Homo sapiens: one gene and its partners. The protein of the gene in region 4 purifies or fractionates together with the protein of the main gene of each other region. This does not show direct contact. Each region holds a gene or a part of one and is shown on either strand. Other genes may lie near its edges. The genes, in order: ATP11C, SLC12A4, FADS1, PTH1R, SLC47A1, SLC12A9 and FAM118B.

The links.
Region 1: the proteins of PTH1R (region 4) and ATP11C purify together in Homo sapiens (affinity purification with mass spectrometry; 2 studies listed by BioGRID and IntAct, with this or other methods). This does not show direct contact.
Region 2: the proteins of PTH1R (region 4) and SLC12A4 purify together in Homo sapiens (affinity purification with mass spectrometry; 2 studies listed by BioGRID and IntAct, with this or other methods). This does not show direct contact.
Region 3: the proteins of PTH1R (region 4) and FADS1 purify together in Homo sapiens (affinity purification with mass spectrometry; 2 studies listed by BioGRID and IntAct, with this or other methods). This does not show direct contact.
Region 5: the proteins of PTH1R (region 4) and SLC47A1 purify together in Homo sapiens (affinity purification with mass spectrometry; 2 studies listed by BioGRID and IntAct, with this or other methods). This does not show direct contact.
Region 6: the proteins of PTH1R (region 4) and SLC12A9 purify together in Homo sapiens (affinity purification with mass spectrometry; 2 studies listed by BioGRID and IntAct, with this or other methods). This does not show direct contact.
Region 7: the proteins of PTH1R (region 4) and FAM118B purify together in Homo sapiens (affinity purification with mass spectrometry; 2 studies listed by BioGRID and IntAct, with this or other methods). This does not show direct contact.

The regions. Positions count from the first base shown.
Region 1 is NC_000023.11:139,730,056-139,734,675, forward strand, and holds part of ATP11C (phospholipid-transporting ATPase IG), read right to left. Parts: intron 2,471-4,620; coding exon of another isoform or gene 2,381-2,470; exon of another isoform or gene 2,380-2,380; intron 1,701-2,379; coding exon 1,599-1,700; 3' UTR 1,596-1,598; intron 1-1,595. UniProt on the Homo sapiens protein: Catalytic component of a P4-ATPase flippase complex which catalyzes the hydrolysis of ATP coupled to the transport of aminophospholipids, phosphatidylserines (PS) and phosphatidylethanolamines (PE), from the outer to the inner leaflet of the plasma membrane.
Region 2 is NC_000016.10:67,950,877-67,955,496, forward strand, and holds part of SLC12A4 (solute carrier family 12 member 4), read right to left. Parts: intron 3,898-4,620; coding exon 3,767-3,897; intron 1,550-3,766; coding exon 1,308-1,549; intron 1,162-1,307; coding exon 947-1,161; intron 429-946; coding exon 264-428; intron 185-263; coding exon 86-184; intron 1-85. UniProt on the Homo sapiens protein: Mediates electroneutral potassium-chloride cotransport when activated by cell swelling. May contribute to cell volume homeostasis in single cells. May be involved in the regulation of basolateral Cl(-) exit in NaCl absorbing epithelia.
Region 3 is NC_000011.10:61,802,974-61,807,593, reverse strand, and holds part of FADS1 (acyl-CoA (8-3)-desaturase), read left to right. Parts: intron 1-869; coding exon 870-930; intron 931-2,832; coding exon 2,833-2,909; intron 2,910-3,826; coding exon 3,827-3,924; intron 3,925-4,134; coding exon 4,135-4,231; intron 4,232-4,482; coding exon 4,483-4,562; intron 4,563-4,620.
Region 4 is NC_000003.12:46,901,700-46,905,398, reverse strand, and holds the end of PTH1R (parathyroid hormone/parathyroid hormone-related peptide receptor precursor), read right to left. Parts: intron 3,634-3,699; coding exon 3,539-3,633; intron 2,874-3,538; coding exon 2,732-2,873; intron 2,651-2,731; coding exon 2,609-2,650; intron 2,130-2,608; coding exon 1,743-2,129; 3' UTR 1,600-1,742; downstream 1-1,599.
Region 5 is NC_000017.11:19,564,151-19,568,770, reverse strand, and holds part of SLC47A1 (multidrug and toxin extrusion protein 1), read right to left. Parts: intron 4,249-4,620; exon of another isoform or gene 4,142-4,248; intron 1,982-4,141; coding exon 1,912-1,981; intron 1,676-1,911; coding exon 1,543-1,675; intron 1-1,542.
Region 6 is NC_000007.14:100,861,925-100,865,443, forward strand, and holds part of SLC12A9 (solute carrier family 12 member 9), read left to right. Parts: intron 1-756; coding exon 757-903; intron 904-3,362; coding exon of another isoform or gene 3,363-3,400; exon of another isoform or gene 3,401-3,435; coding exon of another isoform or gene 3,436-3,461; exon of another isoform or gene 3,462-3,519. UniProt on the Homo sapiens protein: May be an inhibitor of SLC12A1. Seems to correspond to a subunit of a multimeric transport system and thus, additional subunits may be required for its function. May play a role in lysosomal ion flux and osmoregulation.
Region 7 is NC_000011.10:126,217,625-126,222,244, reverse strand, and holds part of FAM118B (protein FAM118B), read right to left. Parts: intron 1-4,620. UniProt on the Homo sapiens protein: May play a role in Cajal bodies formation.

The DNA of each region.
Region 1 (4,620 bases), on a different chromosome or scaffold from region 4:
GATGCCTAAACTAGCTGCTAATTATTGTCTTTGGAGGAGAAATAATGCCACATGAAAATCTATTCCTGGAAGAAATAACTACATTAAAAATAAGACAATTGTTTTTAAAAAATACTTCCTCAGTTCTATGTTAGACATTGTAGGAGATAAGGCCCTGGAGAGGCCAAAAGCAACAGCAGTGTCTTCTATCCAGCCCAGTCCCCCAAACCACAGACCAAGCTAAAGAGAGCAATCCAGGGGGATACAAAATTAGCCAGAAACAATATAGCTAAAATGCATCACACAGCTTAGAACGAGGCAATCTGGGACAAAGGGGTCAAAGACCTTGAAGGTTACTTGTGAAGCAGATTCATTACTAAGGGAAAACATACTCAGGTAAGTTGTTCAAAAATGGGTAAAAAGATGCTAACTGTGGCAAAATGAGTCTGCTTCTAAAATAACAGTGCAGATGTAGACTGCGATGAACTCCAGGAAGACAGAAGAACCAATGGAGTCAATCCATTAATTTAACTTGTATTCTTTGCTAGAGGGTGGCAGAGTTGACAGCTGTTGAAAAAAATGGGCCTATAAGGTGGACTCGCAATTATTAGCTTCAAAGTGAACTAACCCACAATTGTATTCATGATGATCATTAATTTTTATGTGTGCATGAAAGATGGCCCTGCTTTAAGCTGTGTAGAGTTGTTTCCAAGCTGACAAGCTTGGAAGCCTTGTTCATTAATTACTCTAAATTCCTATGGATGGATAAAAGACCTCCAGAGGTCTGAGTTGTTAAAGGCCCCCACTGAAGGAAATACAGACTATACATAAAGGAGTCATTCTGAGTTCAAGGGGCCCTCCCACGGCGTATCAATTCCTCCCAAATATTTTTGGGGGTAAATGAAACATTATAAAGTGAATTTAATCATTTTTGGAAACATTAATTATAAAGCATTTTATATCATTAGGCAAGCATCCCCCTGAATGGCTATGAAATATTTTACCTCTGAAAGTTGAAACATTTAGCTTGAATAAAACTTGACATTAAAAAAGTTATGATTAGACTGGTTCATTGATATATATTTGGAGATCAGACATTTACAAGGACATAAGTGTATACAGTACCTGCAAACACACAGACACAGCACATGAAGGTACAAACACATTTAGTTATTTTCACATAATTCCCAAGAGAACATGCAATGCTAAATTGGCTTGATATTATACAGATGCAATTTTGGAATATTTACTTTTAGTTTTCCAAATGATCTTTATAAATCAAAGTTATATTTCCTGATCAATATTAACAAACATTTTCACATGGTGGCCTTGCCATGACAACTTGCCCCTTACAAATTAAATATGCTGTATCAACATTTGGCTCTGAAAAATGTTTAACATTTTATTTGGGGGGCTTATCATATTTTAATGTTTAATATTTTAAATGCATATTTCCCCATATTCCAAGTAATGCATCTTTATATTTTTGCAAAGAATATTGTAAAGTTCACCACACCAACAGCAGAGAAAATTTAGAGAGTGATATTTTCATTTTTTCTTTATAATGCTGTTAATCCGATTTTTTAAAGCCAGCCCATTTGTTTAACACTAGGTACCTGTTACAATACATTAGATTCGTCTGAGAATGTTCGTAAAAGAAGAGGTCTGACTGAAGGTCTGGCGGATAATGAGTCAGATGCCCTTCTACAGCTCAGATTTCTCTGTAATAGTGAGGCAAAGATACTTAAAGCATTTGAAAATTGGTTAACCTACCTGGTGATTATATATTTAAAAAAAGGTAAAAGAAAAAAATCATTTCCTATAGACTACTCCTCTGGCCAAAAGTACAAATGATTACACTATATAGTAAATGTATAACATTCAAATGAATACATTCAAAGGCCTAAGAAAGTCTCCAACTCGAATTGTTTTTGTGGTAGAAGTAAACAGACAACAGTAGTATGTAGTAAACTTGGGTTTTTGGAATGGCACTGGTAAGTAATATGGTAAGATGAGTCAATATGGTTTGATTAGTAAACCTTACCATCCTTTTGGTGAACACCTCTGAGAGTTGTGCCGGTGCCGTATTATCAAACAAAGAGAAATTTGTGCAAAACATTCCTGTCCTGGTGAACAGACTAGCTCTAACACGCCATGGCCACTGCATACCGTGGATCAATGAAGACTACAGACCCGTAGTCCAAGCTTTTAAAAATTACTTCCTCTCCAGTGTGACAATTTGGAAGGTGAACACATGATTAAAAGAAAATGACAAAATACTCTAAGCATCAATAGAAGATATAAAATGAGTCATGAGAAGTAATTTTTCATAAAGAATTAGAAAATGGTGTCAGGCAAATGAGAATGCAAGCAAGTTGGTACATTAAGAAAGGAAATCACCTTATTCACTCCAAGAGAAACTGTGATTGCTGGAAGTTTGAGAAAGCATGAAGATAGCAGATGTTCCTGAGGAAGGGAGGCGTTTCGTTACCTTGTTCACAATTGCACAAAAGGTGGAAAATTGCAGTAGAAAAAAGAGAAATGCAGAAACCAAAAAAAAAAAAAAAGTAAATAATCTCTCAAATGTAAGACATTTAAAAAGAAAACTTGAGAATTCGAAGCCGAAATGATATGTTAGTTTTGAAGACATTATTTTCTGAAGTAAAAGCAGAGTCAGAGATAGGAATAGTCTATTATTACGTGCCAACTACTATTTCTCTACATATCAATTTGAAATTATTTTGTTAATGGGAAAATTGACTATTTTAAATAAAATAGCTTTAAAATATGCTTCTCGTTAAAATAAGACTTATCTCTAATCATTAATTCACTATCCTACATTTGTTCAAAATCCATTGGTCAAAGAGTTATGTCCAGGGTCCATTGCCAATCACCAATCTATCTTGAAGTAATTATCTCCCCTATGCAACTGTACAGATACACTATGAAGGGACTGACTGCTCTTAAGCAGTTGCAGGATAAAAACTTAATCAAAAATAACAATGGGAAAACATTTGGTGATACCACATTTCAGTCCCATTTGCCTCTGACCAATGCTTAACTTCCTTTCTTACAACCTAATTTGATTGGTTTCCCTGTTTTTCCTACAGAGTCCTCTTTAGAAAGATAGGCTAAATTTTACCTGGGTAAGGTATTATTTTTTTTCCCCTTAAAACACCCAGAAAAGTGAAAATGGATAAAGTTTAACTGGCAAACCTAAGGTTATTTTTTTCCTTCTGATTCTGTGCCTGAAATTATAAGGTAATTTACAGACTCAGTTTTGGCATTGCCCAAGCAAAACAGAAGATGAGTGGTCAACAATGTGGATGACTTGAACAACTCTGCTAATAAAGATTACCCATATTGTCTACTTAGTGACCTAAAATGGGCTTAGAAAAAGAAACCAGCTAAAGTAACATTTGTTTCCAGAAGATTCTAATAAACAATTAAACTTTCAAAGGTAAATAATTTATTCATGTTTTGACAACTACATTTTTTCTTGTTTTTACCTTAAATGAAGAAAGTTGGTGGAATGAAGAAAGTTGATAGACATATTGATAGAATGCAAATTACCAATTGATAAAGCTAGAGAATATTTAGATTCTGAGAAAAAGATTTTAATTGTTTCTATCTTCTATTTTATGGGCAAAAACCCTGCGACAAGATCAGCATGATACCAAGTTCCCCACCCCCGTGTTTAATGCACAAACCTATCTATTCAAGACTGCAACTGTAAGCACGTTTTGGTGTGCTCAAACACTTGTATCCAACCATCGGAGATAAAAGTATTTCTATGAAGCAGAAATATTAGGAGTTAATAGATTAGGTGTTAAAACTACTTTATAAAGGAAATGAAAGTACAGAAAGCAGGAGAAAGCATGGAAAGAGTAACTAAAGCAATAAAAAAATTGATATAGCTAGCAACCGGCAGTGGGGTGGGGTAAACAGGAGATAATGAGCTAAAACAGAATGAAATTTCCACATTCCTTTGCAGTCATCTAGAGAGCTTTGACACCAGCTCAATTAGCAGTATGTCAAAGAGGCCAATGGATAAAGGCCCATCTCAACAGCCACGACATTAGGATTAAACTTTATTTTTGTCTAATCCAGCTAACAGGGCTATTGCCCTGTGAACCCATGGTTGTATATGACACTGTAAGAATCATAATAGTAATCATCATTATTATAATGATTAACTATATTCTCCAAAATTTCCAAAATGCTTTCTCTGGGACTTTGGCTCAGACAGTTGACATTCTTCCCTTCCCTGTCTACCACTCTGAAAGAGTTCTCTACATAATGGAATATTTCTTCCTGTTTGTGCTGACATCCCATGCTAAGCACGGCCATGTTGCTGGGTGCATTCCCATTAAATTATAGTCTTCCTTTGTCAAGCTTCAGCGAAGTTAAGCCTCCTTTTTGATTGTGGTGACTTACATGAGAAAACTTCACACAGGATATGTGGAAATTTCTCCATTGGAAATGTGAAATGGTATTTGCTACTTGGCCAGAAACTCCAGATATATTTCATTGATTTACAGACAGCCAATGACTGTGCTTAGGGGGGACACAACTTTTTGAAATACAAAAATCCTATACTTGACCTTTCCTTGAGGTGTTATCCTGCTGTTTCACTGTTCA
Region 2 (4,620 bases), on a different chromosome or scaffold from region 4:
TGTCTGTGCATGTGACCTGGCAACGTACACAGGCCAAGCGCTTCCCGTCCTCTGCCCCACCTGCCCCAGGCCTGGGAAAGGATACACACGAGGGAAGTTGTAATGATGGCCAGAATGGTCCCCACAGGGATAGACTTCTGGGCGTCACGAAGGTCCCCAGAGCGGTTTGAGCCAGCCATGATGCCTCCAAAAACAGATGAGACTCCCTCAGGGGCTCCCCGGGATTGGGGACAGGGCTGGGTGGGTAGGCAGGCAGGGCTCACCTGTTACAGAAGGGAAGAAGATGCCGACCAGCACGGTGAAGGATGTGGCGATGTCAGCGACCACGTACAGAGGCAGGCTCTCCTTCAGGCTCGGGGCATCTGCGGAGGGCAGCCCATGCTTCTCCACGATGTCACCCTTCTCCAGGTAGGCGCTCCACAGGTTTTCTGCAGGGGTAGCTGTGTCACCACCACAGCTGCCCCCCACTACCCCAGGTAGTTTGGGGCAGCCTAGCCAGAGGCGCAGATGCAGGGCAACTTTGGGGACTCAGGGAACAGCTTCAGCCCAATGACTGCAGCGTCAGCCACAGGGCTACCCTGACCACAGAGAAGGAGCTGCCCAGCTAGAAGTCGACAGACAAAGGTGGCTGAACCACCGTCACCCAGAGCCCGCCACTGCCCGCCTTCCACAGAGGCCTTTATGGATCCTGTGGGAACATCCCCAGGCAGTGTCAGGGGCTGGTGGCTGGGGAAGACAGGCTGCTGCAGGCCTTGGACGCTGGCCAGACAGGCTCCACTCACTCCAAACTCGGCTGCCAGGAGCCAGGCTGGGAGGACACTGGGGGGCTGGGAAGGCGGCCAGTCCTGCCCCCGTTCCCAAGCTGGCCACACAAGGACAGCTCTGTGCTCTGTGCCCCTGCTCAGCCTGTGGGCTCAAGAGCAAGACGACGGGAGGGAGGACCCACCCTGGAGCACACCAGCAGCTGCCCCGGGGATGCCAGGGATCTCGGTCACATTGTTGAGCATGAAGTAGGGGTCACAGGAGTCGGTCGTAAGGTTGGGGCTGTGGCAGAAGAAACTCCATAGCTGGGTGGCCACTGTCTCATTGTCCACTACAGCTGTCTTGGCACAGATGTCAAACTGGTCCCGGGACAGGGTCCTGTTGCCCAGCATGCATACCCTGTGAGGGACAGAAGCACCGGCACCTGCTCAGGTCAAAGCCCCTGCCTGTGCCCACCCTGCAGTCTCTGGGATCTGGGGCATCAAAGGCTGGCTACATGGGAGGGATGTCCATGCAATGCCCAGATAAATTCCTGGGTTACTTACGGAAACACGGGAGGGTCAAATATAGACTTTATGCCCCCAGCATAGATGGAGAGGATGGAGATGATCACACAGGCCAGGAAGAGCGAGGCAAATTTGTTCACATACTTGACCCCCACAAACACCACCAGGGTCATGAAGGTCAGGAAAATGGTCCCATACACACGCATATTGTTCAAAGTGGCATTCGACGTGTCATGAGCACCCGATGGGTAAAAAATGGCAGCTGGTGGGGCAATGTAGGTCTGAAACAAGAAGATGGATAAGGAGGGTTTTATTTCTTATTTGGAAAGTGAAACTTGTCGTTTTGGTTTTCTTTTTACGAGTACCTAAAAGAGGCCGGGCGCAGTGGCTCACGCCTGTAATCCCAGCACTTTGGGAGGCTGAGGTGGGGGATCACTTGAGGTCAGGAGATCATGACTAGCCTGGCCAACATGGGGAAACGCCATCTCTACTAAAAATTAGCCGGGCGTGGTGGCACGTGCCTGTAATCCCAGCAACTGGAGGCTGAGGCAGGAGGATCGCCTGAATCCAGGAAGCAGAGGTTGCAGTGAGCAGAGATCGCACCACTGCACTCCAGCCTGGGTGACAGAGGGGGACTCCGTCTCAAAAAAAAATAAAAAATAGGTCAGCGCCGTGGCTCACGCCTGTAATCCCAGCACTTTGGGAGGCTGAGGCGGTGGATCACTTGAGGTCAGGAGTTTGAGACCAGCCTGGCCAACATGGTGAAACCTCATCTCTACTAAAAATACAAAAATTAGTGGTGCAAAAACTGGTAGTAGTGGCACACGCCTGTAATCCCAGCTACTCGGGAGGCTGAGGCAGGAGAATCACTTCAGTCTCGGAGGTGGTGGTTGCAGTGAGTAGAGACCACACCACGGCACTCCAGTCTGGGTGACAGAGTGAGACCTTGTCTCAAAAAAATAAATGAATAGGCCGGGCGCAATGGCTCATGCCTATAATCCCAGCACTCTGGGAGGCCGACTGCCTGAGCTCAAGAGTTCGAGACAACCCCAGGCAACTTGGTGAAACCTCATCTCTACTAAAATACAAAAAATTAGCTGGGCGTGGTGGCATGAGCCTGTAATCCCAGCTACTCGGGAGGCTGAGGCAGGAGAATCACTTGAACCCAGGAGGCGGAAATTGCAGTGAGCTGTGATCATGCCACTGCACTCCAGCTTGGGCGACAGAGTGAGACTGCATCTCAAAACAAATAAATAAATAAAAATAAAAAATAAGAGTACCTAAAAGAAGCCAGTCACAAAAGGTCACATATTATATGATTCTGTTTATATGAGATGCCCAGAATAGGCAAATCCCAAGGCAGAAAGCAGATTCCTGGTTGCCAGGGCTGGCGGGGAATGGAGAGTGACTGCTAATGGGGGTTCTTGGGATGATGAAAATGTTCTAGAATTGACTGCGCAACTCTGTGAATATACTATAAAACATTGAATTGTACACTTTCAATGGTATATAAATTGGTATGGGAATTGCATGGTATGTAAATTATATGTTAATAAAGCTGTTACTTAAAAACAAGCAAACAAAAAGGATCCAAACATAGATGCCAACCTGAATCGTTAAATAGCCAAAGTGGAACAGTTTGAGCAAGAAAATAAATAATGATAGTATTGGATTACAACCCAAAGAATAAAGTAAATATCCAGAAGTCCATACAGATATAATGACATGGCTGAATAGATAAACAGGAGAAGGGACAAATCCCACATAATGAATGTAGAAGGGATATGAGAAATGAAAACAAGCCAAAGCCCCCCCAAATCAGAAGATTCAGGTGCAGGGTCCTGCTGCAGGTAGAGGACCTGGAGACAAGAACAGCCAGGCAGTCCCTCCAGGTATCTCCTACCCTCTGGATCCCCAGGGGCGGGCACCTGTCACCCCATGCCTCCCGCAGCTCCTTGCCTCTTCTCCCACTGGTACGGCAGTTCACTGGGGAATGAGAAGCTGAGGCTGACAGAGCTCCCATGGGGCTCGTGGAGGGAGCGCCGACCTCCAGCAGGGTTCTGTGGCTGCTTACCCTGATTGAAGGACAAGGAGAAGGTGGATCTGAAGTGCCCTGGCACAGAGCCCCGGAGGACACAGAGCTGGCCAGAGCTCACACAAGCCCAGAAGGAAGCCTACATCACCACCAAGATCTGTCACTGAGCTGAATACAACAGTTCCTGGAACCCTTGCCATGGCTGCAATGGTGCCCAGGTGGATGGAACATCCAGGGCCGAGGTGAAGGCAGCCAGGCCTCTGCCTTGCCTGGCCCAAACTGGCATGGAGGTGAAAGGAAGACCAGCCTGAGTAAAGGTCTTTGTCTCTCGAAGAGGCTTCCTACTTTATAATACCCAGGCCTTGGCCAGACATGTGGGGATGAACAGCCTGAGCCTTCTGTTTGGAGTCCAAAGGGACTGTTTGGACATGGCCAGAGTTGGCCAGGGCTCAGCCTGACTCACCAGCAAGATCTCGATGGCCCCCAGGATGTACATGGCTGCTGCGAATGTTGTTCCCAGGTAGAAGCACAGGCCCACAGCACCTCCAAATTCTGGCCCCAGTGAACGAGAGATCATGAAATAGGAGCCCCCAGCTACAGCAGAGAAATGAAAGTGTGCACAGGTCAAGGCTGGTTCTTCTTCAAGGGGTCTCCCTGTGACAAGCCTGCACAACCACCCAGAGGGACAGGGACTGCTTTTCCTGTTTGTGGATGAGTAGAGGGGCTGGGAGACCTACCCAGGGCTGCACGGTGGGTAAGCATCTAGGCTGACATTCGATCCTATCCCCATCTGACTCGAATGTCCAGCACGGCCCGTGGAAATAACTGCTTTGCGGGAGCAGCTCTAGTCTGCAGCAGTGGCTGACTGGCCACCATCCTCCAATGCCCTGTGCACAGCCCACAGCCTCCTCTGGCTGGGTGTGTCCTATCTCAGCCCACCTCACCCTCCTGAGGCCTGTGCCTTTGTTAGTCTGACTCCTCCAGACCAGAGGAGGGACTGTCTCATCCAGCCTTTTGGCCCTAAGGCCCCGCACAGTGCCTGCCACCAGGTGAGTGTCCACGGCTCCCTGCCCTGAATCTGTGCTTCTATCAAAGTCTAACACCCTTAAAAGACTCAGAGAGTCATGACCAGGCCCCAGGGTGACAAGCACAGGGGGACAAGAGTCATCTCATGTTGCTGGTTGTATCTGCTGCTGAGACAATGTCTCTGGTGAAAATCTGGGAACAGGGATCAAGAAATTCTTTCAAAGAGTCAATCTTGGCTGGGCGTGGTGGCTCATGCCTGTAAGCCCAGCATTTTGGGAGGCTGGGGTGAGT
Region 3 (4,620 bases), on a different chromosome or scaffold from region 4:
AACTGCTGGAACCTTCAGATTGCCAAATTGTTCTTGGTGTCTTTTCCAGAAATATTTGCCAAACTCGAATTAGCCTTCAGGAGATTTGATAAAGCTCATGTTTAAGTCAAGAGACCAAAAGATTTTGATGGGGAGAATTAGGGGCTGGATATAGAGGGAATACTTAACCTGTATAGGGGCAGATATGGTTGTCCATGGAGATTCTGGTGTGAAAAAGTACGATGGCGGCCGGGCGCACTGCCTCACACCTGTAATCCCAGCACTCTGGGAGGCTGAGGTGGGTGGATCACCTGAGGTTGGGAGTTCAAGACCAGCCTGAACAACATGGAGAAACCCCATCTCTACTAAAAATACAAAATTAGCTGGGCGTGGAGGCACATGCCTGTAATCCTAGCTACTTGGGAGGCTGAGGCAGGAGAATCGCTTGAACCCAGGGAGGCAGAAGTTGTGGTAAGCCAAGATCGTGCCATTGCACTCCAGCCTGGGCAACAAGAGCGAGACTCCGTCTAAAAAATAAACAAAAAAGTACGATGGGAGAAAGGGGAGAGGGCAGTGGGGCCTGGAAACCTCATGACAAAGAGAATGAACACAAGAGGGCCTGTGGTCCTGTAGACTCTGTGCTGTGCACATCCCTCATGTGAGCATGGGCCATCCAGCTGCAGGCCATGGTGTGACACACTCTGCAGATTACAGTCTAGGGCTTCATGTTCCATGTGCTGGAGGTAAGGCTGGGCCTCTTGGAGCTTTCCAATAGCACCAACAAGCTGTCAGCCCTGGAGGAGGCCTAAACCTCCAAGCAAGGAAAGGTCAAGTCACAGAGGGAGGAATCACTGGTCTCCGAATGCTCATGTGTTTGCTTTTCTTCACAGCTTGGGAAACAGAAGAAAAAATATATGCCGTACAACCACCAGCACAAATACTTCTTCCTAAGTGAGTGTCCCCATCCAACACAGGGGAGCTGCCTCAGGAGGGAATGCTGAGGGAATGAGGAGGATGTGGCTGTCCAAGGGATTATGGTATTTTAAGGAAAGGGGCTAGAGGAAGTACCCCACTCCCACCCCCAGTTACTCCCTGCATGACAGCAGTTTGCCATCTCAGCTGAGCGAAGTGAAGTTAGGCTGATGATTGGTTGAAGGCAAACTAGTTCTTCCCATCCAACCCCAGTTTCCACTGGGAAGCTGGGTGTTTGGGGTGTAGAGGGGCCTCTTGCTTTATCCTCAACCTTATCTTTTTTTTTTTTTTTTTGAGACGGAGTCTTGCTCTGTCGCCCAGGCCGGACTGCGGACTGCAGTGGCGCAATCTCGGCTCACTGCAAGCTCTCCGCTTCCCGGGTTCACGCCATTCTCCTGCCTCAGCCTCCCGAGTAGCTGGGATTACAGGCACCCGCCACCGCGCCCGGCTAATTTTTTGTATTTTTAGTAGAGACGGGGTTTCACCTTGTTAGCCAGGATGGTCTCGATCTCCTGACCTCATGATCCACCCGCCTCGGCCTCCCAAAGTGCTGGGATTACAGGCGTGAGCCACCGCGCCCGGCCCCTCAACCTTATCTTAAACTTTGTCAAGATGGGCCAAGGTAACCTGGTAGAGCCCAGTCCAACCCCCAGAGGAACAAAGGTACAGATAGTTCTGGAAGGATGGGTCCTGAGGAGAGAATGGAAGAGCTGTTAGAACGAAGAAGATCTTTCTGATGACTGCCACATATTCCCAGCTTTAAAAGTCTGTCCCAGCTACTAAGGAAACTGAGGTGGGACCATCCTTTGAGCCCAGGAATTTGGGGCTGCAGTAAGCTCCGATTGTGCCACTGCACTCCAGCCTGGGCAACAGAGTGAGATCTTGTTTCTTAAAACAACAACAACTCTGCTCCATAATGCCTAAAATGAGCTTTAAACGCCTTTAAATTTTCAAATTTTTTAAAGAAGGAAGGGAAGGAGTCCACTGATCTTATTTTAGTTTGAAGGAATTCATCCTAACTGCCTATCACCAACTATCACGAATAGAGAAAGGCGATGGGGCAGAAGGGTAGAGCAGAGACCTCTGGAAGAAATAGTTTTAGAATCCATGGCACATCAAGATGGAGGAGCCATGGGTGAGCATTGTCATGCTAGGAGTTATGGGTAGCATCAGGTGCCACAGAGAAGGGCTACAGAAAAGGAAATGAGGAAGCATGTAGAATGCAACACTTCTTCAACTCCCAGTTTTCTTTCAAGAGAGGCCCCTCTGTTCCGTCCCACAGCTGACCTCCAGGGCTTCAGATTGGGGTGGCACAAGCCCATCTCCCTAGTTTAAGGAAGTGAGCTTCACAGCCTGTGAAGGATCCACAGGGTCCCTCCCAACACACACACACTTTCCTGCTCCTGCCCCTTCACCTGCATGGTGGAGCTGCCAGGAACAAAGGGCAGATGACTGTAGGGACAGGGCTGTGGCCAAGGTAAGTAAGAGAGTATTAGCACCCTTTTAAAAGTGTGGGATCCTTGGAGTGTGTATGTAGAAAAGAGAAGAAAAATGAAAAATAATAAAGGTGTGGGAGCAGAGCAAGTCCCATGCGTGGGGCCTGAGTTCCCAAGCACCTGTCACTGAAGAGTGCCACTCGCACCCCTCACCTTCCCTGGCATCCTCTTGGGAGTTTTTGCCTTCCCCAGACTTGGATTTATGCCCACCTTCAGTGCCTGCTGGTTCCAGTGGATTGCAGAGCACTCAAGCACCTGGAGGGGAGACAGAAGGGATGGTTGGAAGAGGCAGCCCCCTGCTAGAGGCCATCTCTCCCAACATCAACTGGCCCTTTCATGACCTTCCTGTGCTCATGCCTCCTCTTTGTCTCGGTTTCCTCCCCAGTTGGGCCCCCAGCCTTGCTGCCTCTCTACTTCCAGTGGTATATTTTCTATTTTGTTATCCAGCGAAAGAAGTGGGTGGTGAGTATCCATGGCCCAAGAAGCCCACATCCTTGTCTCCAGCACCCAGAGTGGGGGATAGGGGTTCCCCAGGGGAAACTTGAGACTGACTCTAGGCCTAATTTAGAACAAAATAATAGAACCAGACACAGATCCTCCTTATCTCTAAGTGGGACGAAATGATTTGAGCTTAGCAGGCAGCCTGATTCCCAATGTGTAATTTCATGCGGTCAGTGTCTCCAGAGGTTCTTGTACTGGGCATAATGCCAGGGGGCTGAGTTGGGAATGGGGAAGATGAATGAGAGACAATACCTACTTTCAAGGAAACTTCTGATGAAGCAGAATGTGGTTATTAATCAGAAAAGAGGTACAGGCAATAGGTTCTGGGGACTCCAAAAGGGGCCTGACTGCACCTGGCTTTGTGAAGTCACTTTTCTAGCTGGCCTTGAGGCTGGGCAGGGTTTCTGACAGGCAGAGGTGGAGCAGGGGGGATGAACTCTGAGCAGAGAAGCTGGAAATGAGGGGTAAGTTTGACCACCAGACATATTGTGGAGGACTAGTGTCAGGGGAAGAGTATGGTGCTTGGTTCAGTGATGAGAGATTTGATCAGGGCACTGGCATGGACTGAGCCATGGTCCTGGCAGATTCATTTGGCGGCATGCTGAAGGATTTAGATTGGCTAGGAAGAGCTAGAGGCAAAGAGACCTTGTAGGCCTTGGTACTTTTGAAGGGGACATGCAAGAAGGGCTGGGGGGTGCCAATGGGAATGGAAGAAAGGAGCAGTGGCACTAGATACTGCAGGATTGGACCCCTGAGAAGCTGAAGATGAGTGAGTCTGGATAACCAGGAGAATGGCTGCACCATGCAAACAAAGAGCTGCTGAGAGGAAGAGGAAGAGTTGTTCGTGACTGTTATGCTCGCTGCTTTTCTCACTATAGGACTTGGCCTGGATGATTACCTTCTACGTCCGCTTCTTCCTCACTTATGTGCCACTATTGGGGCTGAAAGCCTTCCTGGGCCTTTTCTTCATAGTCAGGTAGTATTCGGTGGGGGCGGATAGGGACTGGTGAAGGAAATGTTGGGGAGTGACCAGTCTGGTCTAGGGGCCGTGCTGGGGCTTTGGGTAACAGTGGGTGTTTCAGGAGTTGGCTTGGGAAAGTAGACAGGCTGGAGCAGTTATCTGAGGGGGGAATCAGAATTCTGGGCTCTGTGTGTACTGTTTTTGTCTGTGTAATACATCTAACAGGTTCCTGGAAAGCAACTGGTTTGTGTGGGTGACACAGATGAACCATATTCCCATGCACATTGATCATGACCGGAACATGGACTGGGTTTCCACCCAGGTAAGGGACAGTCACTCAGAAGACTGGAGCATAACACAACTATTGAAAAGGATGCGTAGGTGAAAACAGCAAAAACAAAAAGTCCCCCAAACAGCATTTTCTCATTAGCCTGAGGCTCTTGTTCTGCAACCATGTGAAGGGAGTGACCAAGACAGTCTCATGTCCCTTCCTCAGCCAGCTTTACCTGGAGAATGCTGGGCTGGCCTTTCCATCTGATATTCAACATGCTCTCCCCTGACCTTTTCCGCCAGCTCCAGGCCACATGCAATGTCCACAAGTCTGCCTTCAATGACTGGTTCAGTGGACACCTCAACTTCCAGATTGAGCACCAGTGAGTAGGGAGCCTGGGGAAGCAGGGTCCTGGGGAGGGTGTAAGTGTTGGGTACAGG
Region 4 (3,699 bases):
CAAACCCTGTCCTAGAGGGAATCCAATCTGAGAGGAGAGGCCCACCTCCACCTGGGGGGGCACCCAGTCTGAGGGGGAAGCCACAGCCCTGTTGCGGGGTGCCCAGTCTGAATGCTTCTAGGTGAGTGGGCCTCATTGGCTTATTACTTCAGAAACCTCAGTTCAGACCCTAGAGAGTGGCATCGGACATCCCTGGGGAGGAGGATGAGGGTCTGCCCTGCTGAGGTCTCCTTCCCCCAGCTAACTCTTGCTGCCCTCCCTGTCACCATCTCCCTGCGAGGCCACCCGCCTCCTGCCAGGCCACCTCTTCTCCAACCCCTGTGCAGCCTCCTCTCGTCTCCACATTGCTGTGGGGACTTTTTAAACATTCAGACCTTGTTGCTCTCCCTCTTGAACTTCCAGTGGCTCCCAGCCTGGCTCTGCAGCCCTTCAAGACTGGCCTATGCCTCCCTCAACCATTGCATGGAGCTCCACGGGTGCACCAGGCCCTTGGACAGCCTTTGGTCCTGTCCGTCATCTGGAAGGGCAGGCAGGGCTGGGTGTGGGGCTGCTCAGCAGGCACCCACACCTCCTAACGCCCACCTGAGTTTTTTGTCTTGGGCCTCCTGACCCCTCCCCTATGCCCTATGGGGTGTGTGTGGGCTGCTGGAGATGAGGTGCACTCCTGGATGCCGAGTCCGTGGAGAAGAGTAAGACGGGCTGAGCGGGAGATGGGAAGGCAGGGCAGGGCTCGTGCGGGGCTGTCTTTAGGCTGGAGCAAGAGCAAGAAGCTCGTTCAGGCCAGAGCCCGGGGTGGGCATGCTGTAGGGTCAGTCCTCAGGGTGTCGGGCTGAGGGGCTCTGTGCCACTCTGGGGCCCACGAATGGCCCAAGGTGGGAGAGGGCACGGTCCGGGGGGGTGAGTAAGGTGGTAGGTGGGTGTCAGGTGAGGACACTTAGTGACTGTCCCAGATGCATAGTGAATGGATGTGTCCCACCTTGCAGGCCCCTGCCCAGCCAGCCCTCTGGGCTCAGACTCCTGGCTCCCCACAAGTCCTGAGCCAGAGCAGGGACCCAGCCCACCCTTCACCTGCTGGCCTGGTGCTCCTACTGCAACCTCAGTCACAGAGGCATGTCAGGTCACGGGTGGATGCTAAGGCTCCTGCGTGGAGGGCTCCCTGAGTGGCCACTGGACAGCCAGGAAAGGTCCATTCTGTGGCAGGGCCGTAGGCTTGGGGGTGTGGCCAGGGACCCGAGGGATCTGCCAGCAGCCCTGGGTGGCAGTGATGGGGGCAGCAGTCAGAAGAGTTGGCCCAGAGGAGCCTGGGTCCCCCATGGGGTCTAGGTACAAGTGTGGAGAGCAGCTCCACAGCTGGCAGCAACGGAGGCTGAGGCTGGATTTCCACATGGGTCCACTTGGCTGCTGTGTGACCCCTGCAGACTTGAGCCACTCTGGGCCCTTTCTGCTGGATACCACAGGCCCCAGATCCCTCCCCATTCTGAAGTGAGACCTGAGGATTCCTCCATGACTCATGGCCCTCCCGCCACAGCTTTCCCTGGCTCCCAGCCCCACCCTCTCGGAGTGAGTCCCCAGTTTGGGCCACAGGAAGCCACACACCGCTTCCTTTTCCTTTTTCTTTTTTTTTTCTTTTTTTCCCTGTTTTTCCTCTTGGCCCCAGCCCTGAGTGGGAAATCATTCAACCACCCATCTTTTGGTCCATCTGTCCATCCACTATGTCAGCAGGTCCAGCCCCCAGCGCCTGGTCACATGACTGTCTCCCACTCTTCCTGTAGCAGGGCAGGTGGCCGCTCAGGCCCAGAGGCCTCCTCGTCCAGGCCTGAGCAGGAGCCGTTGAGGAACCCATCGTCCTTGGGAGCAGCCATGGCAGGTGGTGTGGTCTCGAGGGTCTCCAGGGCTGGGGTCCCTGGCTTGGCATGGCCAGGCAGCTGAGGGTGGCCGTTGGTGGTGGCAGTGGGCAGTAGGCGGGGGCTGAGGGGCAGGCCGAGTCCCACACGGGGGCCGACATTGGTCACACTTGTGTGGGACACCATGGGGCCGTAGCTATAGCTGCTGCTCCCGCTGCGTGCCTTTCGCTTGAAGTCCAGTGCCAGTGTCCAGCGGCTCCAAGATTTCTTGATCTCAGCTTGTACCTTGGGGCAGTAAGGGTGCGGCAGTCAGGTGTGTCTCCCAACCCCAGCGATGCCCCATCCCGGCCCCTGGACACCCAGCACGGAATGAAAATGGGAATAGGGGACTCCTGGGAAACTCCAAGGCCAAGTGAAATCCCATCCTCACAACAGGGTGTTTGGCTACAGGCAGCCGACACACCCAGAATCTACAAGGCTCAAATTGCCCCAAAGGTGGCTGAGTCCTCCAATCTGGGTCACAGATAATTGAACCATGGGGCTGGGAAGACACTTGGCTATGCCAGTGACTGAAGAGTCCCCACATCCTAGCACATCCTGAACCTGCATCATCTGGAAAGACTTCTCTGCTTTCAGAATGTCCTCAGGGGTGTTCTTGGAGGAACAAAGAAATAACAGGGTGGAAGAATGGAGAAATGAGCCTTGAGGAAGCCTCTGGGGTATCTGCCCCACCCTGCCCTATGCCAACACTGTCTCCTGCTTACCTCGCCATTGCAGAAACAGTATATGATTGCGACAAAAAATCCCTGTGAAGAGGGGTGTCTCGAATCAGGCCTGCCCCCGGAACCCCTCCCACCCTCAGCCAGGCCCGGGCCAGCACTGCGCACCTGGAAGGAGTTGAAGAGCATCTCATAGTGCATCTGGACTTGCCAGAGCGTCCCTGAGACCTCGGTGTATGGTGTGGCCATGAAGACAATGTAGTGGACGCCAAAGAGGGGCATGAGCACCAGCGTGGATTTGAGCAGCTTCCTGGGCCAGCGGGGCAGGTAGGTCAGGGCCAAGCCACTTCCCCTTCAACAAGCATTGTGCCACCCCCCACCCTGCGAGCCCCAGGCTCCGGAAGCTCAAAGGGGCCCAGGGCTCCAGTCACCATGGGAGGACAACCCAGTTCACCTGCATGGCTGCTGTCCTGGCTAAGTGCTAATAGGGCCCGTTGGTTCTCAGCGGTGTCCCGGAGCGGACTTCAAATGACAGTCCCCCTGTCCCTGGGCCCTTCGCACCTGTGGAGCCCTCAGCTGGCAAGCACTCCCCTCCACGGTCGAACCTCACTATCCCACAGTCCGCTCCTCAGGTTTCAGCTGAGCTGCAGCCTTCCCGGGGCCACTCACCGCCTACCTGTTCCTCAGACCCCCTGCAACCAACTCTTTGAGGAGAGGTTCAAGTTCGTTGCACACTCACAGACTCCAGCTCTAGTGCAGGGCCTGGTACAAGTGGGCAGGCTGGCTTTGGGGTGCCCTAGGGCCTCCCATCACTGCTGGGCAGGCCAGGTGGGTGAGGACAGCCAGGGAGTCAGACGCTGGGTCCTTTCCCTTGCCCCAGGATCATTCATGGGGCCACTGTCTTTCCTGGGGTACATGGTACCAGGACTCAGGGACCCCTGAGGAGCCAGGGCATGGCAGGCATGGTGGGCTCACCGGTACTGCTGCCGTGTGTCACACCGGCCGGCGTTGGTCTCCCGCAGCTTGGTGGCGAGCACCCGGACGATATTGATGAAGAGGATGAAGTTGAGCTGTGGGAGTGAGGGGGCTGCGTCTGGAGGCTGCACCCTAGTGGGGCGGGGCAAGGCCTGGCAGCC
Region 5 (4,620 bases), on a different chromosome or scaffold from region 4:
AATTTCTGATAGACAGGAAGAATAAGTTTTGAGATCAATTGCACACCAGGGTGACTGTAGTCAATGTACTGCACATTTTGAATTAACTAAGTAAATTTCAAATGTCTCACCATAAAAAATAAGTGGTGATAAGTATGTTAATTAGCTTAATTTAATCATTCCACATTTTATACATATATCAAAACACCACACTGTACCCCATAAATGTATACAACTATAATTTGTCAATTTAAAGTTTAAAAGATATAATATAGAGAATTTAAATTATTTCCTTAATATTTTATACTGATTGCACGTTGCAATAATTTTAGACATATTGTGTTACATAAAATACATTACTTTAAAAATAAAAATAAATTAGATTTCTATAATATTTGCATTAGCTAGGCAATTGGCAAATCCAAACTATGAATCGCACCAGAAACTCAGCTAAATAATTTTCTGCACTATCATGCAAGCCCAATGAACTTTGCATTGGCAATACTATTCTTTGAACAACTCCTGTATTTTTAATTAAAATATTATTGAACTTGAGAAAAATGTGCCACATAAAGGAACATACTGAACTGGAAGTTCCCTGTAGGTATCAGTTGACTTCTCACCACCTCTGAGCCTGCCAAGTACAGATGAATCAAAACAAGCCACGCTTTAAGTCAGTCACTACTCACCCCAAAGATAAATGTCCAGGTTTTCATATCATCATTTATTAACTGCCAATATGTTCCAAATTATTATTTTAGAAATCAAAGCTGGGCAGTCATTTATTTCCGTACTTTTTAAAAAGATTAGCTCTGGTAATTTCAGATGCTGTGGATTAAGTTTTTTCTTCCAAATGTGGGAAGGTGCTCAAGTCCGCCCCCTTCCTTCTGTGCTGTTCACACCGACCACGTGTATGGCCTTGTGGGGAGCTCTGTGGGGGCACAGAGCTAAGGCTGCACAAGGAGGGAGGTGGAGGCTGCGGAGTGCGATGAGGGTGATGAGAAGGGCACTGGCCACCCATTGCCCTCCAAGGATCCAGCCATGCTGCTTGGTGAGCACATGGGGCACTGCTCTAGGATGCAGAGTGCCACCGTGAGTGCAGACCCTGCAGCACCCCACGCACGCAGGACCGCCTACGATAGCCCTGGCCCTGCAGAGTCACCCTCAGGGGCTCACATGCTGTCTCTAAAGAACAGCACGAAACACACTAAGGGGATGCTTCCAAATGCTTCTTCAGCGGTCCCTGCTGTTGCCTCCTTTAGAGAAGTGAGGGCTGGATGACTCAGGATAGGAGGTTGGTAGAAAGGGCATCTGTGCTCAAGTGTGTCAGCGTGGAAGATCGCCCGCAGGGGTGTGAGGGGCAGGACCACATAGCCTTGGGGCCCTGGCTAGAGCTGGAGGTCACCTCCTGAACGCCCCCTACACTCTCTGACAAGACACAGAATGGACGTGGGCGAGCTCCCGAGTTTCAGAGGTGAGCCTCAGTCAAAGACCCGTGTGCTCCGACGGTCATTTCCTGGGCTGGTGAGCAGCTAAGCCCTGCCTGCAGAGGTTAGAGCTTACCCATCACTCCAAGTGTGGTTGCAAACATCAGCGCGATCCCGATGGGGAGGCCAACCACATAGTACCCAATGGTATTCACAATGGCTCCAACCTTCTGATTTCCACTCCCCCTCAGAACACCACCACTCGTGCACTGCAGGCAGAGAGCATTCCATCACTGTGAACACATCCGGCGCTCTTGAAACACTCCCATCTCCCGAGCACTTCATATTCTGTGCTAAAATCCATGGTAAGGTGACAGTATCCTTCTAAACGAAATGTGGTAACAATATTCAATCTTCCTACCTATGCTGGCCCCTCCTCTCAGCTGAAATTTACCACCATCAGAAGATCATAACAGTGCTTAGGGGACTACTACATAATACTTACAGCAAGAGCTTCAAAGAGGTGGGAAACAGCATAAATTGGAACCACCTGAGCCACCAGATTAATGATGTCTCTGTTAGGAAAATAAAGCACGTGGTGATTAGGAGACAAAGTGGAGAAAGAAGTATATAGCTTTCTGGCTAGGCGCAGTGGCTCATGCCTGTAATCTCAGCACTTTGGGAGGCTGAGGCGGGAGGATCACCTGAGGTCAGGAGTTTGAGACCAGCCTGGCCAACATGGTGAAACCCCGTATCTACTAAAAATATAAAATTAGCCAGGCCTGGTGGTGGGTACCTGTAATCCCAGCTACTCAGGAGGCTGAGGCAGGAGAATCGCTTGAACCCGGGAGGCAGAGGTTGCAGTGAGCTGAGATCTCATCACTGCACTTCAGCCTGAATGACAGAGCGAGACTGTCTTAAAAAAAAAAGTATATAGCTTTCTGCATATTACAGACATGCACATGCATTGAGGCCAGCAGCCTAGTCAGGGACAGTTCACCTGTTGCTGGGTCCATAGAGGAAACTAACTGCATGTTGTATCTCACAGCTTTTAGAAAAAATAGGCAGCACCACACCCTTGTCTTCAAGAGATATGTTTCAAGTCCCCCAGTGGATGCCTGAAATCGCAGAGAGGACTGAACCCTAAATACATTGTGTTTTCCTTATACACAAATACATTATGATAATGTTAATTCATAATTTGGGCACAGTAAGAGAGTAACAACAGTAGTAATAAAGTAGGCCATAACCACATGCCAGCATCACTACTTTTGTGCTTTGGGATTACTAGCACTGTGATACCAAAACAGTCAATCTGAAATAACTAGCGGGTGGAAAGCACACACAGCGTGGAGATGTTGGACAAAGGGATGATTTCATGTCCCAGGCGGGACGTGAGATTTCCTCCTAATACTCATAACCGCACGCAATTGAAAACTTATGAATTGTTTATTTCTGGAATTTTCCACTTAAGATTTTCAGACCACCAGGCACGGTGGCTCACGCCTGTAATTCCAGCACTTTGGGAGGCCGAGGCGGGCGGATCACAAGGTCAGGAGATCGAGACCATCCTGGCTAACATGGTGAAACCCCGTCTCTACTAAAAATACAAAAAAATTAGCCGGGCGTGGTGGCGGGCGCCTGTAGTCCCAGCTGCTGGGGAGGCTGAGACAGGAGAATGGCGTGAACCTGGGAGGCAGAGCTCGCAGTGAGCTGAGATCATGCCACTGCACTCCAGCCTGGGCGACAGAGCGAGAGTCCATCTCAAAAAAAAAAAAAAAAAAAAAGATTTTCAGACCAAAATTGACTGCAGGTGACTAAACCTTGGAAAGCAAAACCAAGGATAAAGAGGGGTTACCGCATAGTCCATCTGGTCAGTGTAGACAAATCAAGGGATTTGGTGACATCCCTCCCCCGTTCCCCATCAGCTGAAAAGAAGTTTGGCTGGGCACAGTGGCACGCACCTATCATCCCGGCAAGTTTGGATGCTATGATCATCCTTCTTTTAAGATGATGCCACAGGCCAAGTCTGACTGTGTCTCCTAGTAAGCCTCAGTGAAGCACTACAGAGTAAAAATTAAGTTCCCTCTATGGAACGAAGGTTGGTAAAGGCCATAGATATATTCTGCAGAATTATCCTTGGTTCCTAGAAATGGAACCCCTAAAGCTAGAGACTTGGATTCTAACCTCTGCATGTGAAGGGAGATGAGAAAAATGCTGCCCTGACCTGGGGAAGCAGGAAATTCACAACACCCTTGGAGTGAGTTTTGTCACTCTAAACTAGAACCTAGAAGACTGTCTCCCAATAAATACTTGTTTAATTACTAAATAAGAAATCCAGCACTGGCCCAGGAGTGGTGGCTCATGCCTGTAATCCCTGCACTTTGGGAGGCCAAGGCAGGCAGATCACCTGAGGTGGTGAGTTCGAGACCAGCCTGACCAACATGGAGAACTCCCATCTCTTCTAAAAATACAAAATTAGCAGGTGTGGTGGTGCATGCCTGTAATCCCAGCTACTCGGGAGGCTGAGGCAGGAGAATCACTTGAAACCAGGAGGCGGAGATTGCGATGAGCCGAGATCGTGCCATTGCACTCCAGCCTGGGCAACAAGAGCGAAACTCCATCTCAAAAAAAAGAAAAGAAAAGAAATCCAGCACTGAACAAGATGATCACTTCCTCCTCACCAAAAAGGACAGAAATATAATTATTTTATTCAAATTTTATTTTTTGAATAGGTAACATGCACATGGTCAAAAAATGGAACAATATGAACAAGATAGTAAGCAAAGTCTTACTGCAATGCCCTTCCAGTTTGCCCCAGTACCAGCCCTGCCTCCTCCAGGTAACAATTCCTAGCACGTTCCATGTTTGTCTAGTGTCTATGAAAATATAAGCAAATACAAATGTATATTCTTAATTTTCCTTTCTATATTCTATCATTTCACATGCAGCATTCTCTATATGATGTTCTGCACCTTGCTTTTTCCACCTGAGATATTATATTCACTTTTTTTTTTAGACAGGGTCTCACTGTCACCCAGGCTGGAGTGGAGTGATGCAATCATGGCTCACTGCAGCCTCAACCTCTCAGGCTCAAGTGATCCTCCCACCTCAGCTTCTTGAGTAGCTAGGACTACAGGTGCACACCACCATGCCCAGCTAAATTTTATTTTTTGTAGAGATGGGGTTTCGCCATGTTTCCCAGGCTGGTCTT
Region 6 (3,519 bases), on a different chromosome or scaffold from region 4:
CCACTCACTCACTCACTCCCATCCTTCTCTCCCCCTACCTTTTTTTTTTTTTTGAGATGGAGCTTCGTTCTGTTGCCCAGGCTGGAGTGCAGTGGGACGATCTTGGCTCACTGCAACCTCCACCTCCCAGGTTCAAGTAATTCTCCTGCCTTAGCCTCCTGAGCTGGGATTACAGGCACACACCATCATGCCTGGCTAGTTTTTGTATTTTTAGTAGAGAAGGGGTTTCACCATGTTGGCCAAGCTAGTCTCGAACTCCTGACCTCAAGTGCTCCGCCCATCTCGGCCTCCCAAAGTGCTGGAATTGTAGGTGTGAGCCACCACGGCCAGAACCCCTCCCCCGCTTTTTTTTGAGACAAGGTCTTGCTCTGTCACCCAGGCTGGAGAGCAGTGGTGCCATCATAGTTCACTGCAGCCTCAACCTCTTGGGCTCAAGTAATCCTCCTGCCTTGGCCTCCTGAGTAGCTGGGACTACAGGTGTGTGCCACCAGGCCTGGCTCATTTGTAGAGATGAGGTCTCTTTATGTTTCCCAGGCTGTCTGGAACTCCTGGCTCAAGCAGCCCTCCCACCTTGGCTTCCCAAAGGGCAGGGATTACAGGCATGAGCCCCGACACCAGCCCCTCTGCCCCTTTTATCCTTTCCCATGACCCCTCCAAGTAGCCATAGCCCTGCCCAGGCCCGTCTGTGATTTGGACTCTAGGAGACATTGAGTTTGGACAACACTGGCTACCTTCCTTTCCTTATCTTCTCTGTAGACTCCCTGCCCTCGGACCCTGTACAGCCGCAGTATGGGGCATGGCTCAGCCTGGTGGACCGTGCCCAGGTGAAGGCTTTTGTGGATCTAACCCTCTCACCCTCCGTGCGCCAGGGGGCTCAGCATCTGCTGCGAATCTCCGGCCTCGGTGAGCTGCTTCTCCCTGGATGCCCTCGGCCTTCCTCTGTGGCCACTTCAAATCTCCGCTCCCCTCCCCTAGAGAGTCAGCCACAGATTGCAAACTGCAAAAGGACCTTATAGTCGAGAGGAGATAAGACAGTGCTCAAAGATAATAGCCTCAGACAGTGTGTGATAAGGTCTAATAGGAGATGCTAGGGACTAGTGATGGGGTGGGCGATGTTGTGGGTTTTTTTTCCTTCTTCTTTTTTTTTTTTTTTTTTGAGACGGAGTCTCACTCTGTCTTGCCCAGGCTGGAGTACAGTGGCACGATCTTGGCTCACTGCCTCCTCCACCTCCCAGGTTCAAGTGATTCTCCTGTCTTAGCCTCCCAAATATCTGGGACTATAGGCATGTGCTACCATACCTGGCTAATTTTTGTATTTTTAGTAGAGATGGGGGTTTCACCATGTTGCCCAGGCCAGTGTCGAGCTCCTGACCTCAGGTGATCTACCCGCCTCGGCCTCCCAAAGTGCTGGGATTACAGGCATGTACCACTGTGCCCAGCCTTTCCTTCTTTTTTTTTCTGATCCAAAAATTGGGGCATAGGCACTGAAGAGTGTATTTTTGGAGACAATGGAGCATTATTTGAATCTCCAGCTGCCTCATCAAATCAGATGGTTTTTAACCACCAGTGTTCAGAGGAAGGCAGGCCAGCCACTATACACTGATGTGGCCAGCAAAGGTTTTGCGGAGAGATGGTAATTCATCCAGACTTTGAAAGAGGTTGGGATGTAGGAGATGTAACATGTCTCCCCTGCCCCCGCCACCCAAAGCCACAAAGGATGCCGGAGGCTGTGTGGGGCGGACGTCTGTGGATGGAGCGGTAAATTCTCAGCTTTTAGCGCTGAGGCCACCAGGGTTATCTATGCTCAGTCACTGCCTTTTCCCTTAATCCTGGACCAGTGCCCGTCACCAAAGTGCATGCTTCCTTCTCTATTCAGAGTCTGGCTAAAGTTCAACAGTGTTGGACATTGCCCAGTTCAGTGTAAATCAGAACCCTGGGAAATACTGAGGAGGGGGCATGACTAGTTTATTTTGCAAGATCAGCTGGAATTCACACCTGCGGAGATGTTTTGGGGTGTCGTCAAGCATCATTGACCCACAGAACATCTGAGAGCCTGGTCTTCACTTTTTGTGCAGAGACCACAATGCTTATGAAATACGAAATTTTTCCTGTGGAAGATATCAGGTCGGTGCAAAAGCAATTGCGGTTTTTGCCTTTTTTTTTTTTTTTTTTTGGACAGGGTCTCACTCTGTTGCCCAGGCTGGAGTGCAGTGGCACAATGTCAGCTCACTGCAACCTCTGCCTCCCGGGTTCAAGTATTCTCCCATCTCAGCCTCCCAAGTAGCTGGGACTACAGATATACGCCAGCATTGTCCGGCTAATTTTTGTATATTTTTGGTAGAGACGGGGTTTCACCATATTGCCCAGGCTGATCTCGAACTTCCAACCTCAGGTGATCCGCCTGCCTCAGCCTCCCAAAGTGCTGGGATGCCATTTTAATGGGGGAAAAAAAGAACCACAATTACTTTTGCACCAACCTATTCCAATAAAAGGAAAAGTAGTTCCTTTAAATGGTGGATTCTCCTGTCATAGAAAATTTGATTTATGGCTTGAGCAGTGTTTGTTTCATGAGAAGGGGTCTTGGAAGAGGTCTCTGCGTCTCCCTGTAAACTCAGCAATTATCCGATTCCACAAGGGTTGTTCAAAAATTAAGAACGAAGAGCTTGTCAGCAGGGACTTGGAGCATTGTGGTTGCCACGTGCCCAGCTCGGTGGCTCAGAGTGTGGCCTCTCACGCTGGATGGAGGCGGATTGCGTTGACCTACCTGCCCCAGTACCTACCAGATATGAGCCTATGGGCAAGTGACTTCATCCCTTGGTGCTTTGGGCTCCTTATCAGTAAAAAGAGGAGACTAAATATTACCTACCTCATAGCATTACTTCGAGTTTCAAATAAGTTAAAATATAAAGTGCTTTCTACAGGACATAGCCCCTGGTAAGCGGATACCATGCAATGAACCACCATGATTAGGGTTTTGGTAAAACCTACTAGGGTTAGGGTTTACTGCAGTAAACATACGGGGTAGCCCTGTTTCTTTTTTTCTTTTTTTTTGAGATGGAGTCTCGCTCTGTTGCCCAGGCTGGAGTGCAGTGGCGTGATCTCGGCTTACTACAACCACCACCTTCCGGGTTCAGGCAATTCTCATGTCTCAGCCTCCTGAGTAGCTGGGATTATAGATGCCCACCACAATGCCCGGCTAATTTTTGTATTTTTAGTAGAGATAGCATTTCACCGTATTGGCCAGGCTGGTCTCAAACTCCTGATCTCAGGTGATCAACGTGCCTCAGCTTCCCAAGATGCTGCGATTACAGGTGTGAGCCACGGTGCCCTGCCTGGTCCATTTTTTCATCTTCCCATTGCAGAGTCTGGGACGCTATTACCCTGGGGATTCAGGTCATGAGCTTGGCTGATCAGGGTGTCTGGTTTGCACAACAGAGTCAAACTCGCATCCCCTGCCGTGAAACAGATGCCCCGCTAGAAGCCGGGAGTGGACAGCATCCTCCTCTCCATAGAATTGGA
Region 7 (4,620 bases), on a different chromosome or scaffold from region 4:
TGTTTTCCACACTTCACAAATATCTGCTCTTCTGTGAGGTAGATGCTATTATCATCTCATATCATAAATGGTATAGACAATGAAACAGAAGCACACAGATGTTAAGCAGCTTGTTAAAGGTCACACGACTATTACACATTAGACATGGAGTCAGTGTTCATGTTGTTAAGACACAAAACAATACCATCTCACAAAAACGAACAAGCCGTGGGCCACACTCTTAACAAGTCTACACCTTTGGAGAAACAGAACTATAAACAAACCTTTACAACATGTTTGTGCCAAGTTTCACATGCCTGGATGAGGTACCAAGGAGATGAGCACTTCTGCTTGAGGAAAATCAAGGAAAGCTTTATGGGAGATAAATACCCTTATGGCAAAATTCAATGAAATTGTTGGTGTTTATCCTCCTCTGCCTCCTGAAACACCCAACACTGAAGTCCATCTTGCCTTTTCCTGGTTTTCCTCCCTCCCCTCTAGTGGGAGGTCTTCCCTGTTTCCTAAATGCTGAGGATCCGCAGGGCTCTCCAGTCTATTCCCTTTACATACTCCCTTCCCTTCCCACCCCATTCACCCCTAGATATTAAAATACCAACTAAACGCTAAGGACTCCCAAAACGCTACCTTCAGTTCAGATCTCGGTGGTGCTTCAGGCCCAGGAGATAGCCATGTAAGTTTCAGTCAGGCAGCCCTTCAATATTGAAAGGTACTTTCAGACTGTACTTCAAACTTAAAAACCAAAAAACCGTTCAACAACCTGCTCCTTATCCTAAGTTATACAGATCTCTGAATAGTAGAAATAAGCTATGTGATAATATTTATAGGCCATTATTTCTTTCTTTCTGTTTTAAGCACCAACATATGTATTTACTGATTTTGGAAAAACTGTCATATACTTCAGAATAATGTATTTGGATCATTTCTAAACAAGAGAATATGAACCAAAGGGAACCCAGGGAAGAAAGTAAATCTGTAACCTTAAACTAGCATGATATTCTTTTCAGGATATTCTCTTTTTCCTAATAAAAATTAGCCAAAAATTAATATTGTTTTTCTTTGAGATGGAGTCTTACTCTGTCACCCAGGCTGGAGTGCAGTGGCTTGATCTCAGCTCACTGCAGCCTCTGCCTCCCGGGTTCAAGCTATTCTCCTGCCTCAGGCTCCCAAGTAGCTGGGATTACAGGCCCACGCCACCATGTTTGGCTAATTTTTGTATTTTTAGTAAAGACAGGGTTTCACTATGTTGGCCAGGCTGGTTTCAAACTCCTGGCCTCAAGCGATCCACATGCCTTGGCCTCTCAAAGTGGTGGGATTACAGGCATGAGCCACTGCGCCCGGCCTACTATTCTCTTTGATCTGAAGATGAACTGAGAGCTGAAAAGCACTGTTTAGATCTGAAATAAGAATCTGAAAGCTCTTAAAAAAAAAAAGGCATTATTTGTCACAGAAGCCATCAGAACAACTACAAAGACCAGGTTTCTTAGGAGAAATAGCTCTAAAAACATGGTTTTGCCAAGCAGGTAGCATCAGTCTTTTTTGTTTGAGACAGTCTTGCTCTGTTCCCCAGGACGGCAAGATCATGGTTCACTGCAGCATCAAACTCTGGGGCTCAAGGGATCCTCCTATCTCAGCCTCCTAAGCAGCTGGGACTACAGGTGCGCACCACCACACCTGGCTAATTTTTAAATTTTGTTGTAGAGATGGGCTCTTGCTATGTTGACCAGGCTGATCTTGAACTCCTGGCCTTGTCAAGCAATCCTCTTGCCCTGGCCTCCCAAAGTGTTGGGATTACAGGCATGGGCCACCAAGCCCAGCCAAGCATCAGTCTTAAAAAAAAAGTGGCCAGTGAAAACAATTGAGGGTATTAAAAAAAAAAGAGAGAGAGAGAAAACAGAAAGCAGGTTAGGGAGACTAAAAACATACTTTCATAAGGAAGTGAAGGAGGTCAGTGGAAGACCAAGGAGGACTCTCAGGGAGCAGCCAGAAAGCTGGGCAGCCTGGGCCCAAGGGAGGCAGGTGGAGACTTCATTCAGAAAAAGAGAGCACCTTTCCCCCAGATTTGAAAGTAACAGATCACTGCAGGAAATATGCAGAAAGAGCAAAATGAAGCCCCCCTTCCTCCAACGTGGAGCTAACCACTGCTGACATTCGGATTTATGTGGAGAAAAGCAGTTTTTAAGAGGAACTCTCGGAATAAGTCTGAGTATCTTGGGTTCATGTTCATATCAATTCTAAAAACTTCATTCATTAGAGTTTGCCCCTGCTTTCACACCATAAATCTCCATACATATAAGCCCCCCCTTTAAAAAAAATTCTTCCTTCAATGTCTTATTAAAATTAACTTAAAAAAAAAACTCAAGCAGCTCGAGCTGCTTTTTTTTTTTTTTTAAGTTAATTTTAATAAGTACAGTAGTGCATGTTTTCTGCAGTAGAAGAAAGAAAGAAGCAGTCTATTTCTAGTGGCTGGGGGTAGGGAGGTGCTGGGGAAGAGCAGGAACCTAGGAAGAGTCAGCAGAGGGTAGCCACGCCCCAGCCCCATGGACGAGACTCCTGAGGAATCCATAAAACTGCGAAGTACTAAGTTCTGGCAACAGATCTCAAACCTGCTCCTTAGCAAGAGAGCTAAAAAGAGAGTGTTTCTTATGTACTCTGTTAATTTGACTCTTAAGGCATATAAACAATAGGGAGACCCTGTCTCTACAAAAATAAAAAACTTAGCCAGATGTGGTGGCATATGCCTATGGTCCCAGCTACTTGGGAGGCTGAGGTGGGAGGATTGCTTGAACCCAGGAGGTCGAGGCTGCAGTGAGTCATGATCATGCCCACTCCAGTCTGGGCAACAGAGAGAGACTCTCAAAAAAAAAAAAAAAAAAAAAAAAAAAAAAAAAAAAAAAAGATAAACAAGAGCTGAAGGATAAGCTTCCAAAATAAACGAGGAAAACAAGAAATCTGTGCTTTTCCTTATGTGATATTCCTGTGCTGCATTCCATGACACTAAGAATATAAAACATGATAACTTCTGTCCTTACGTGTTTACTTCTTAATCTTTTTCAAAGTACGCTATTAAAATGGCAACAGAGGAGTTTTTCTTTTTTCAAGGTATAAAACCAAGAATGTGAGGTGCAGGAGATAAGCATTCAATTTTTCAATGAATTTTTGGAGATGGAAAGCAAGCTTTAAATGCAGATCTGAAAATACGGATTGGCATAAAGTCTATTTAACTAATGCGCAAATTCTCTTCCTCACCTCCTATTTTCATCTATTTTCTCCACCCCCAAATCCAGAGGTTTAAAGAAAAATGAACCGAAATCTGAAATGGGTCTGGAGTAAAATACATCAGCAGGAGCAATGAAGAACTGAAAATACAGATTATGTCAAAAGATGCATACTAAAAGGTTCTCCAAGCCTCCATCCTTGTCCCAGCAACCAATGCACTGTCAGCTAAAGAAATATTAGCAAACATATACATTTGTACAAACATACACACAAAATCCATATATACCAGCCACCCTATAGTAATGGCCACCACCCAACAAGACCCACGCTGGGAACTTAAAATAACAAAAAACAAAACAGAAATGAACAGTCAGAATCATGAGACATTCAAAGAAATCCCACAATAAAATAATTCATTTATTCCTTAAGTTATTAAGCATCTATTCATCGCCAGGCACTGTTTCAGAGGCTGGAATTATAGAGGTAAACAAAAAAAAACCCAAAATCCCTGCCCTCATAGAATGTTTATTTTAGTGGTGAGGGAAACAAGTAAATAAATATGTGGGATGCTAGATGGTGGGAAATGCTTCTGGAGAGAAACAAAGCAGGGAAGTGAGATGGGGGTCTGCACTTCTCAATCCAGTGCTCTCTTCACTGAGGTGACATTTAAGGAAAGACTTGTGGATTCATCCAAAGTGAGGTGTGGGAGCAAGTCGCTGGATATCTGAGGGAAGACACATCCAGACAGAGGCACAGGTGCAAAGGCCCACATCACCTGAAGGAAGTGGAGCCTGTGCAGAGAGGAAGAAAACTCAAATACTCCAGCGGGCCCTCTGAGCCCACCATATCCACATAACAAGAATGGATATTACAAAAAGGTATCAAAGAAAAATTAAAGATTGAGCAAAAAATCACAGAAATAGTACAAGAAAACATCCCGGAACTAGAGGACGTGAATTTCCAGAATCAAAACCGTCTGTGAGAAGCCAGCACAACAGCTGAGTAAAAGACCCATACCCTGGTGTTAATACACATCATAAAACTGCAGAACACCAGAGATAGAGAATATCCTCAAAGCTTCCAGAAGGGGAGAAAACAAACAAAATACGGTCACGTAAGAAGGATTTAAATCACCACATCTCTAGAGCAATTACAGATGCCTTCAACATTCTGAGAGAACCTTATTTCCAATCTAGAATTATATAACTGCCAAACTATCAAACAAGTGTGTGGGCAAAACCAGGTCATTCAAATACTTCTTAGAAATAACTGAAGTATATGCTTTTAAAAAATAAAGACATAAGCCCAGAAAGAGGAAGATACGGTTCCTGCACAGGAAAGGGCAGGTCCAGGAGGACCCCAGGCAGCAGTTCTTGAGAGCAACAGTAAAGGCAGGAGGAGGGG